Linked DNA regions of Homo sapiens. The protein of the gene in region 1 interacts with the protein of each later gene in a pairwise test. Each region holds a gene or a part of one and is shown on either strand. Other genes may lie near its edges.

The links. The genes of interacting proteins can lie anywhere in the genome.
Region 2: the proteins of MST1R (region 1) and PTPRR interact in a two-hybrid assay, tested with the Homo sapiens proteins (one study listed by BioGRID).

What each region holds. Positions count from the first base shown.
Region 1 is NC_000003.12:49,886,015-49,891,593, forward strand, and holds the end of MST1R (macrophage-stimulating protein receptor isoform 1 preproprotein), read right to left. Parts: intron 5,567-5,579; coding exon 5,385-5,566; intron 5,293-5,384; coding exon 5,183-5,292; intron 4,637-5,182; coding exon 4,471-4,636; intron 4,047-4,470; coding exon 3,910-4,046; intron 3,802-3,909; exon of another isoform or gene 3,707-3,801; intron 1,549-3,706; coding exon 1,293-1,548; 3' UTR 988-1,292; downstream 1-987. UniProt on the Homo sapiens protein: Receptor tyrosine kinase that transduces signals from the extracellular matrix into the cytoplasm by binding to MST1 ligand. Regulates many physiological processes including cell survival, migration and differentiation.
Region 2 is NC_000012.12:70,889,739-70,894,277, reverse strand, and holds part of PTPRR (receptor-type tyrosine-protein phosphatase R isoform 1 precursor), read left to right. Parts: intron 1-1,300; coding exon 1,301-1,599; intron 1,600-4,539. UniProt on the Homo sapiens protein: Sequesters mitogen-activated protein kinases (MAPKs) such as MAPK1, MAPK3 and MAPK14 in the cytoplasm in an inactive form.

The sequences.
Region 1 (5,579 bases):
GGTTTCACCATCTTGGTCAGGCTGGTCTCAAACTGCTGACCTCAAGTGATCCGCCTGCCTCAGCCTCCCAAAGTGCTGGGATTACAGGCATGAGCCACCGCACCTGGCCAGAAGTTGGCTCCTTGAAAGTGTGGAGTTAGGCCGGGTGCGGTGGCTCACGCCTGTAATCCCAGCACTTTGGGAGGCCGAGGCGGGTGGATCATGAGGTCAGGAGATCGAGACCATCCTGGCTAACAAGGTGAAACCCCGTCTCTACTAAAAATACAAAAAATTAGCCGGGCGCGGTGGCGGGCGCCTGTAGTCCCAGCTACTCGGGAGGCTGAGGCAGGAGAATGGCGTGAACCCGGGAAGCGGAGCTTGCAGTGAGCCGAGATTGCGCCACTGCAGTCCGCAGTCCGGCCTGGGCGACAGAGCGAGACTCCGTCTCAAAAAAAAAAAAAGAAAGTGTGGAGTTGAGGCCTTGCTGCTGGCTTATCTCTCTTAAGGCTACAAGCGCAATCAATGCTGGCAGTGTTGCTGGGACCCAAGCCTCTATGCCCCAGATGGCAGGCCCCATTCCATCCTGGATGGTGTGACGGTGGGCACTGCAGATCGAGCAGGGAGCCCTGGAGAAGTGCTAGGGCTGGGGAAAGGGGAGGAGGCAGCCTGAGCCATGGAAGAAACCATCCTGGTCACTGCATGCTTGGGTACTCAGCCTACTTCCTTGGTTCCATCTAACAGTCCCCAGAGCCCTAGGACCTGGATCTGGGCCTTGCTCACCCTCCCTGTTCTCAAAATCCTTCTTGCTGATCCAACTCCTTTCCAGCCTCAGGGTCTTTGCATGTGTGACTCTCTGCCAAAAACCCTCTTTCCTCAACACTGTTTCTGGTGGTTTTTCCCCGGTTGATAAGGCCTCAGCAAAATGTCACCTCCTGGGAGGCTTCCCTTGCCTCTCTATTCAGCTATTTATAGCAGCCTCCTGTCATTCTTTCACACTGTTTGCTACAATTTGTGCTTTAATAGTCATTTGTTCCTTTATTGGTTCAAGGGTCAGTGTTGGTGTGGTCACTGCTGAGTCCACTGTGCCCAGAAGACAGGGTCCACAGCAGGCACTCCATAAATACATGTTGCAGGACTGCCCTCACTGGCTCACTCTGTGGAGTGAGGGACCTAATGGGCCCCATTTACCTATTGCCTCTGAAAGTTAAAGGGCAGGAACAAGGTGGAGGGCCACTGCCCTCTGGCCTGGCATGGCCCAGAGGCAGCTTGGGGTTAGCTCAAGGCAGCTAAGCAGGTCCAGCCCAAGAACTAAGTCAAGTGGGCCGAGGAGGCTCTGAGAGTGGCCGGGGCCGGCGTACATTCCCTGGCATGGGTGAGAACTGCGGCTGTTCTGGACGCACATTCATCTCATGCGAGGTGCTGGGGCCCAAGTTCATGTAGGTTGCTGGCAGCTGCACATAATGGTCCCCAAGCAGTGCAGACACTATCTGCTCCACCTCCCCCACTAGTACTCTGAAGGTGGGTCGCACTGCTGGGTCTGCCTCCCAGCATTGCTGCATCACTTGGTACCTGTTGGGGGAAAGGGATGTCAGGTTAAGGCAATTTCCACCCAAGGATTCTGGGCCACCCACTTGCTGTTAAACCTCTGGCAGGCCACACAGGGATGAGGATAGATGACAGGACCTAGTACCTAGCACTACCCAATCAGGGGCAGCTCTTCTCATCCCTATGATTACTGTTCCAGTCCTGCCTTCCCACCCTGGCAGAGGTCGAACTACCTCAGGTGTTAAGAGCTTGGGCTCCTGTGCCCTGTGGCCTGGGCTATGTGATCTTGGATAAGTTCCTTAACTTCTCTGTGCCTCTGGGTCCTCCTCTGATCACAGAGAAGTAGGCATATAGGCTGATGCCTGTGAAGTGCTAGGCACAAGGCCCAGCTCACGAGGTACAATGGTCATCATCACAGTTCTTCCAGGAAGGAAGCCTGGGTCCAGCAAAGCAGGAATTAAAAATCCTGAAGTGGCCGGGGGCAGTGGCTCATGCCTGTAATCCCAGCACTTTGGGAGGCTGAGGTGGGCAGGTCACGAGGTCAGGAGTTCGAGACCAGCCTGGCCAACATAGTGAAACCCCATCTCTACTAAAAATACAAAAATTAACTGGGCAAAGCTGGGCGTGGTGGCTCACGCCTGTAATCCCAGCACTTTGGGAGGCCAAGGTGGGTGGATCACGAGGTCAGGAGATCGAGACCATCCTGGCTAACACAGTGAAACCCCGTCTCTACTAAAAACACAAAATATTAGCCGGGCGTCGTGGCAGGCGCCTGTAGTCCCAGCTACTCGGGAGGCTGAGGCAGGAGAATGGCGTGAACCCGGGAGGCGGAGCTTGCAGTGAGCCGAGATTGCACCACTGCACTCCAGCCTGGGCAACAGAGCGAGACTCCATCTCAAAAAAAAAAAAAAAAAATTACTGGGCGTGGTGGCACACGCCTGTAGTCCCAGTTACTCAGGAGGCTGAGGTAGGAGAATCACTTGAACCTGGGAGGCAGAGGTTGCAGTGAGCCAACATTGCGCCACCGCACTCCAGCCTGGGCATCAGAGTGAGACTCTGTCTCAAAAAAAAAAAAAAAAATTCTGAAGCAAGAGCATTTGGGGCAGCACCAGTGGCACCCTGGTCCTGAAGCAGAGGTTCCCCAGGTTTACCTGCTGGGTCCTAGTGCCTGCCCCATTATCTTGGGGATGTCATTCCTGCCTGAAATAATACTCTACCCTACACACAATATCTCATATAATTCTCAGACTCTCGGAAGGTGGTACTGTTGTCTCCACTTTACAGATGAGGAAATTGAGGCCCAGAGAGGAGAAGGGCTGGACTGCTGAAGTGGACCCTATGGTGTGCCACCCAGATACCCCTTTACTTTCCCAGTGGCTAGGAGTGTTGCCTGCTGATGGTTCTTGACTGAGGCTCTCTCTAGGAATTGCCCTAGGCAGAAGAGAACTGCCTCTGCCAAGCTCACATCCCCTCACCAGGGACAGCCTGTGACTAGTAACTGATTAATGCCTGGTACAAAGACCTGGCCTGTTGGTCTCAATTTCAGAAAACTGTGGTGGGTCATCCCAGTTCAAGCAGTCCCTGTGGGATGGGCTGCAGTTTCTGTGACATTTCTCCTGCCCAGTCCTTCTTCCCTTGCCCCCAACCTCTCAGTAAATCCCCGTACATAAATCTCCAGCTGAGTCTGTTTCCAGGAGCCCAATCTGGATATGGGTAGGCAGTGAATTAAAGAAGTGAATAGTAAGAGCAAACCCAAGGCAGGTAGGACTGTGAGGAAGGGCTACTCGCATCCTTCTTGGAGCACAGCCTGAGACAGGAGGCGTTAACTACTTTTACCTATGTCCTGGTTCTCTCTGTTCTAACCCAGCAGACCTAGCCACAGCTCAGGCACACCTGCTACGTATGAAGCTGAACCTCAGCACCGAACCCACCCCGTAGGCACTGAGGACAATGCAGCTGCCGCCATCCCTCCAGGAATGGGGAATCTGAAACCACATACAGTGAAAAAACCTGACCTGGAGATCCAGAGGGGGTTGCTGTGGGGGTTATGGAATCTTTCCTCGAGATTAAATGAGAGGAAAAGGTGGAAAGCAGACCCCGTTAGTGGGAGTCGGGTAGGAGGAGCACTGGGAAAATCAAACCACGGGCCTCAACCCCAACTCTGAGCTCAGAATGCTGTTACCATGGCAACTGTGAGGTCCTCCCAGGGTCCTACTCTGCATGAGGGTGGGACCAGTTCACAGATGAGGAAATTGAGGCCCAGCGAGAGTCCCTTTCCTAGTCAACCAGAAGTTCAGTCAGGAAGCCAGGCAGGAGCTCTGTCTCCTGTCTCTTCCATGTCTCTGGGGCCCAGTTCCCTCCCCACTACCACCTCCACATACTCACAGAGAATCAGGGCAATACTCAGGCTGGGGCAGGCGCCGACCCTGGGCCAGGAAGTGGGTAAGGTCAAAAGGGTCAATGTGGCGGTATGGTGGGGCACCCCGTGTCAGCAGTTCCCACAGCAGCACACCAAATGACCACTGTGGAAAGGGGGAGGTGAGGGGACTCAACTCACCCCAAATTTGGGGGCAGGTGGGTCCCCCAGGGCTTCTACCTCCCAGAGTCCTTCAGCTGGAAATGGAAGACCCTACCCTCCACTGAGAGCTCATTCCTCAATACATCACCTGTGTCTTTCCTCTGTCTCCTCCCACTACCTCATCCTACCCAGAGTTGGGGCTGGGCAGGCCCTGGATTATCTGTGAGGAGCCAGTGAGTTCCCAGCCTCCTCTAGCCCTGGCAGGTGTCAGATTCCATCTTACATCTGCCCAAGAGGTGAGCAGATGGGCTGTGGGGGTCATCTACCCTGGGGACTCCCTGGGCTCAGATCATTCAGAGCTGAATGGGTGAGGCCCAGTGTTCTTGGGTGCCAAAGCCATGTGGACTGTAGGGCAGGTGGGGCCTCACCACATCAGACTTGGTGGTAAATCTATAGGTCTGCAGGCTCTCCAGCGCCATCCACTTCACAGGTAGGCGAGCGTGGCGATGCTGTTGAACACTATAGTACTCCCTGTCCAGGATGTCGCGGGCCAAACCAAAGTCAGCCACCTTGACTGTGAATGACTCGTCCAGCCTTAGGGGTAGGGAGAGGATCACACTTAGGACTGGCCCTTACCAGGCCCTGAACCCACCTGTTCTAGGCCCTTACAGAATTTTTTTTTTTTTTGAGACGGAGTCTCGCTCTGTCACCCAGGCTGGAGTGCAGTGGCGCGATCTCCGCTCACTGCAAGCTCTGCCTCCTGGGGTCACGCCATTCTCCCGCCTCAGCCTCCTGAGTAGCTGGGACTACAGGGGCCCGCCACCACGCCTGGCTAATCTTTTTGTATTTTTAGTAGAGACGGGGTTTCACCGTGTTAGCCAGGATGGTCTCGATCTCCTGACCTCATGATCCGCCTTCCTCAGCCTCCCAAAGTGCTGGGATTACAGACGTGAGCCACCGCGCCTGGCCAAATTTCAAAGCCACAGTGTCCAGTCCAAGTCTGCACTGGGCAGACAAAAAAAGTAAGGTGCAGAGAGGGGAGGACAAGGCTGGAGTGGGCCCTTCCCTGAGGCGGCCTTGAGCACCGCACACCCTCATGCCCTGTCCTTTTGCTTCACCCCAGCTACTCTGGACTCTCACATGCAGTTCCGCGCAGCCAGGTCCCTGTGCACAAACTTCTGCTCTGCCAGGTACTCCATGCCGCGGGCTACCTGCAGGCCAAAGCTGATGAGGTCCTTCACGGTGGGGTTCTGGGGGCACAGGTGGGTTGGTGGGCAAGGGCACAGCAGCTCCTTCTCCAGCTGCTGCCCAGCCCCCAACCCAGAGCCAGATGAACACTGACCCGCTGAGGTGAGCGGATGAACTGGAGCAGGTCACCGTGGCACATATAGGGCAGCAGCACATGGGGCAGGCCCTCAGGTGGCAACATGATACCAATGAGAGCCAGCACATTCGGGTGGTTCAGGCCACGCATGAGCAGCCCCTCTCGCAGGAAGGCCTCCACCTGCTGCATCTCTGTGATGCCTGCAGAGCAGCG
Region 2 (4,539 bases), on another chromosome or scaffold:
TGTAAATAGCTGAAATTTGCAAGAAAAACAAAATAAAGTACAGACGCTTGCATGATTTGGGAAGTAAAAGATAAAAATAGTAGGAGATTGGAGAAGAATTCTTGTAAAAAGAGGTAAGTAATTTTCTAAGGACAGCACTTGTTACCACAAGCATTTCCAGTGAAAATCTGGGGTACCATTGCTAGGGACTATGTTATAAAACAGATCTCATGTTTGCTTTTCTAACTGGTATTTGACCTAGTAATATTCTTTTTGATTCATATGTATTATCTGTTTCCTCCTGTGGCCAGTAGCAAACAGGAGAAGCCATTATTCAATGCAATGAATATTTATCTAACAGAAGAAATAAAGATGAATGTATTTGTTACTAAATAAATTCAATTGCTCTAACAAAGATACTTAAAATAATAGCAGGTAAAACAATAGAATATTGTTTTTCTCTCTAAAAATCAGAGTGGGAACTGTGAGGTTGGTATGGTAGTTTCACTTTCATCAGGGATCAGAATATTTTGTCTTAGTGCTCTACCATCTTTGACACATGGTTTCTACCTCATGCTCCTACCAGACTCTCTGCATTTCAGCCAGCACAAAAGAGGAAATGTAGAAAGGAAGGCCATATCACATCTCTGCTAACATCTGTTTACTCACATTCCAATAGCTATAACTTGATCAAATGGCAATGCTTAGTTGCAGGGAAGACTGAGAGAAATGTAGTCTCTATCTAGATGGCCATATTACTTACACAAGTAAGGAGACGATGGATATTGTTTGGACTACTGAAAGTTGCTACCACAATAAGTACACTCAGATTTCTTACCTCAGAGAGCTTAAATACTCTGTAAGCGTGAAGAAAACTGTTCATTGTAATACAAGCAATAAGTATGAAATAAGAATTGTAGGAAATGCTTATATTTAAGGAAAGCTTAAATATGATAAAAATATTTATAATTTCAGCAGCAGATAGGACATCCAGGAATAGAAGCCCAAGTAGGTATTGAAACTATGGGTGTAGATAAAGGAGGAAATTTCTTAGTAAAAGTGGCATCAGAATATCTGAAAAATAGAACTTTTTCAAAGTACGCCCACTTTTATCCACCTAAAGTCTTTGAGAGGCCTTCATACCACCAGGTGTATACTATTTGTTGAGGATCATGAAGCAGACAAAGAAATATGGAGACTAACCTAAATCCTTCACAAGTCTTAAAGCCTCTCAAGAAAGGGTAATCCTCTTCATCAGATATATCTACCTCTCTTACTGAATAGGGTCTTTGATATTGTTTCTGCTTCTTCCCTCTTTCAGGGTGCTTTTCAGGAAACAATGATCATTTTTTGGCAATTAATCAGAAGAAGAGTGGGAAGCCGGTATTCATTTATAAGCATTCACAAGACATTGAGAAGAGCCTGGATATAGCCCCACAAAAAATCTACAGACATAGCTACCATTCCTCTTCCGAAGCTCAAGTAAGCAAACGCCACCAGATTGTCAATTCAGCATTTCCTAGACCCGCATATGACCCGTCTCTCAATCTGCTGGCCATGGATGGTCAAGATCTTGAAGTGGAAAATCTCCCAATCCCAGCAGCAAATGTAATTGTGGTGGTAAGTAGTATGTTAAACTGATGCTGAGGCTGATGTTGATTCTTTCCTGTCATTGATGCTTGAAAAAAGAAAAACACTGATTGTGAATAGTTATCAATGAATCCCAACGGGTATGTACCACAGCACTTATTCTGTGGTACTTCTAATTTCTTACTTGACTGTTGTCTGTTTTCTTCCTCTTACGAAATCAGAAAACTTGTCTGTATCCTCCGCTCATAGCAGAATGCATGGTACATGGTAGATGCTTAATAAATATTTGAATAAAAGATTACTTTAGGAAGGCCTTACAATTATAGTTGATTATATCTTGTACTGAGCCTCCTACCTTCTGTGAGAATCTGTTTTAAGCAGATAGGCCTTAGTCTCAGCCTGTGTAAATAAATAATACTTATTGAAGATCCTCTGGTCACTTGACTCAAATTACAATAAATAAGACAACTGAAAGGGGAGGTGTGGTAGAGGGAGAGTAGTTTTCTGTCACTGGAGCAAATAAAATGAGTTGGGAGTAATTGATAGATAACATTTTTGATATTACTGAATAATAACCATTCTTTATTAATAAAAGTGATACAATGATCCCATTGCTTATGTTCTTAAAGTTCCCTTGCTTGTATAACCCAGGTCAGAGGTTTCCAAATTGTGGAGGTTATCATAGTTTAAATACATACTGAGGTTGACACCCTATTTGAACTACAGTCACTCTCTGGTTTAACATCATTATAGAAGGATCCACATTGAAACTACAAATCAGTAGTTAAATGGTTGTTATTGCATCTCTGCTCCAAAATATAATCAAATGAGTTGATTTGTGTGGCCAAGATAATTCAATGAAACCATGTTTGCATTTTGGCAACTCCTCTATGCACCAAATGTAATTAAATCTAACAAGCTTCTTTTTTTTCTTTATTTTTTTAACCTACTACATATAGTATACTTTACTTAATATTGAGAATCAAAGTTCCATTCGTCAATGTTTTCAGCTAGCATACACTCAGTATTTATTATGATCTAGTTTCCCCTTGGGATATCTGGAAACAGAGACAAATGAAATACAGTCTCTTGTTTTGCTTGGAAAATGTCCAGAGGGAAATATCAATAATTCAATAAAAATCATAAGCTAAGAACACAAGATGAACTCTTGTTAAGAGAAAATATGTGGGTCACTTGGCATCCTGAAATACTTGAACAAGTTTTCTGCATTTACATGAGTAGCAGATGTTCTGAAGGTGAAAGTCATGTACTCTGTCTATTCAGTGAAGATAAATGATGTTAATGATGTCTCTGTATCTGGAGATGCTCCTGTTAATGCTAGGGCTCATGGGAGATATTTCCTTAGTGACCATCATATACCCATAGTCATCAACTCTTAAAGTCACTGTGAATTACAGTTCAAGAGGCTTGTTCTATCTTGTAATGTCATGTACTGTCTAGTTAATTTAATATCATGGACAATAAAAGGCACCAATGAGGAATTCTGGCAGGTCATTTCACTTTCAGCTTATTTGTGGTTTGGAGATTGATGAAGAAGCTGTGCTTTTCCTTTGGGGTGATGATTACATAGAGGCAATAGGCAATTTTGCTGCATTAGCTTTCCCTAGCCTCTGACCATGCTGTGGCTTTGGTAGCTGGCAACACCAATTGCCAGTCCTAATGTTTCCTGCAATCCACTTAGATTACTTATGTGCATGATGATTTAGCAGCAAAACTGGGGAGGCAGGGTTATTTTTTAAATAAATCAATAATGTTTAGCTTCCTCAAAAAGCAAAGGGGTGATGCAATTAAATGTCAGCTGATTTGAAGACCCATTCCATACAGAAAATGGATGTATGGATGGGGCATACAGGAAGCAAGGGATATATTCTGGGGCAGCATAATGACTTTAATGGAATAATTGATGTGTGTTTGTGCTTATCATATGTACATGAGTATAAAACATATACATCAATGCAGACCTTCTTGTTTGAGGGATATTGCAGTGGTACTAAGAATTATTTTGAGACTTAATTTATACTCAAATAGACCATGTTCTGACTATCAGTGTCTTGAACTGGAGAAATTATAGGCATTTTTTTTCCAGCCAGGGTAAAAAGCTACACTCAACCTCTAAACTTTATATGTAACTTCTAAGACTTCCTAGCTCAGAAGGAAGGATCAAGCATTTTTCCTCCAATACTTTTTTCTTTCTTGTTTCAACTATCATTGGCAATGAGTTTTAGAATGCTACCTTTAAAAAGGGCATGAAAGTTGTGTCTCTCCTCCCTTCCTGATTCCCAATTGCCACCGCAAAGCATTTCATAAGAGCATTTATCCACAAATGAATTTTTTCCCTCTTTCTTCTTTTTATTAGTAATCAGGAAAATTTATAGTTTATTTGTTACAAGGAGAGTACAACACAATTAGAATGTTTATCCCAAATAATGCTAACTATGTTCCGGAACTCAATTAAGAAGCTGTTATTAGGATTTCTGTGCAAGTACAATGTAGAGAAGATATTGAATGCCTCAAGGTCAGTACTATGGTAAGAGGAAAAAAATACCGCTTTAGATGAAAGTATGCTGTAAAATCCATAGCTCTTGTCACTGGATCCTCAGGATATTTGTCAAGACACAAGGCCACAACACCAGGAAGGAGGGAACCCAGAGGTGCAAGTGAAAATGGTGGAATGGTAGCAACTACAGGCCATTTCAGTTCAGCATAGGCTGCTGAGTGAAGAATGTTCTAGCCTGGACAGAAATCTGAGCAAACTGAGGATTAGTAAGGCTTGGGAATATAAGGGGTGGTTTTTGACATCAGTGAAACGGCATGGAAATGGGAAGATTATGATTTACTCTGTGAGATGGACTCATGGGTAAGAAAAATAAAGGAAAGGAGAAGATGGAGGAGAAGAAACAGGAAGAAGAGCAGCAGGAGAAGGAAAGGAGGCAAGGAAAGAAGGGAAAA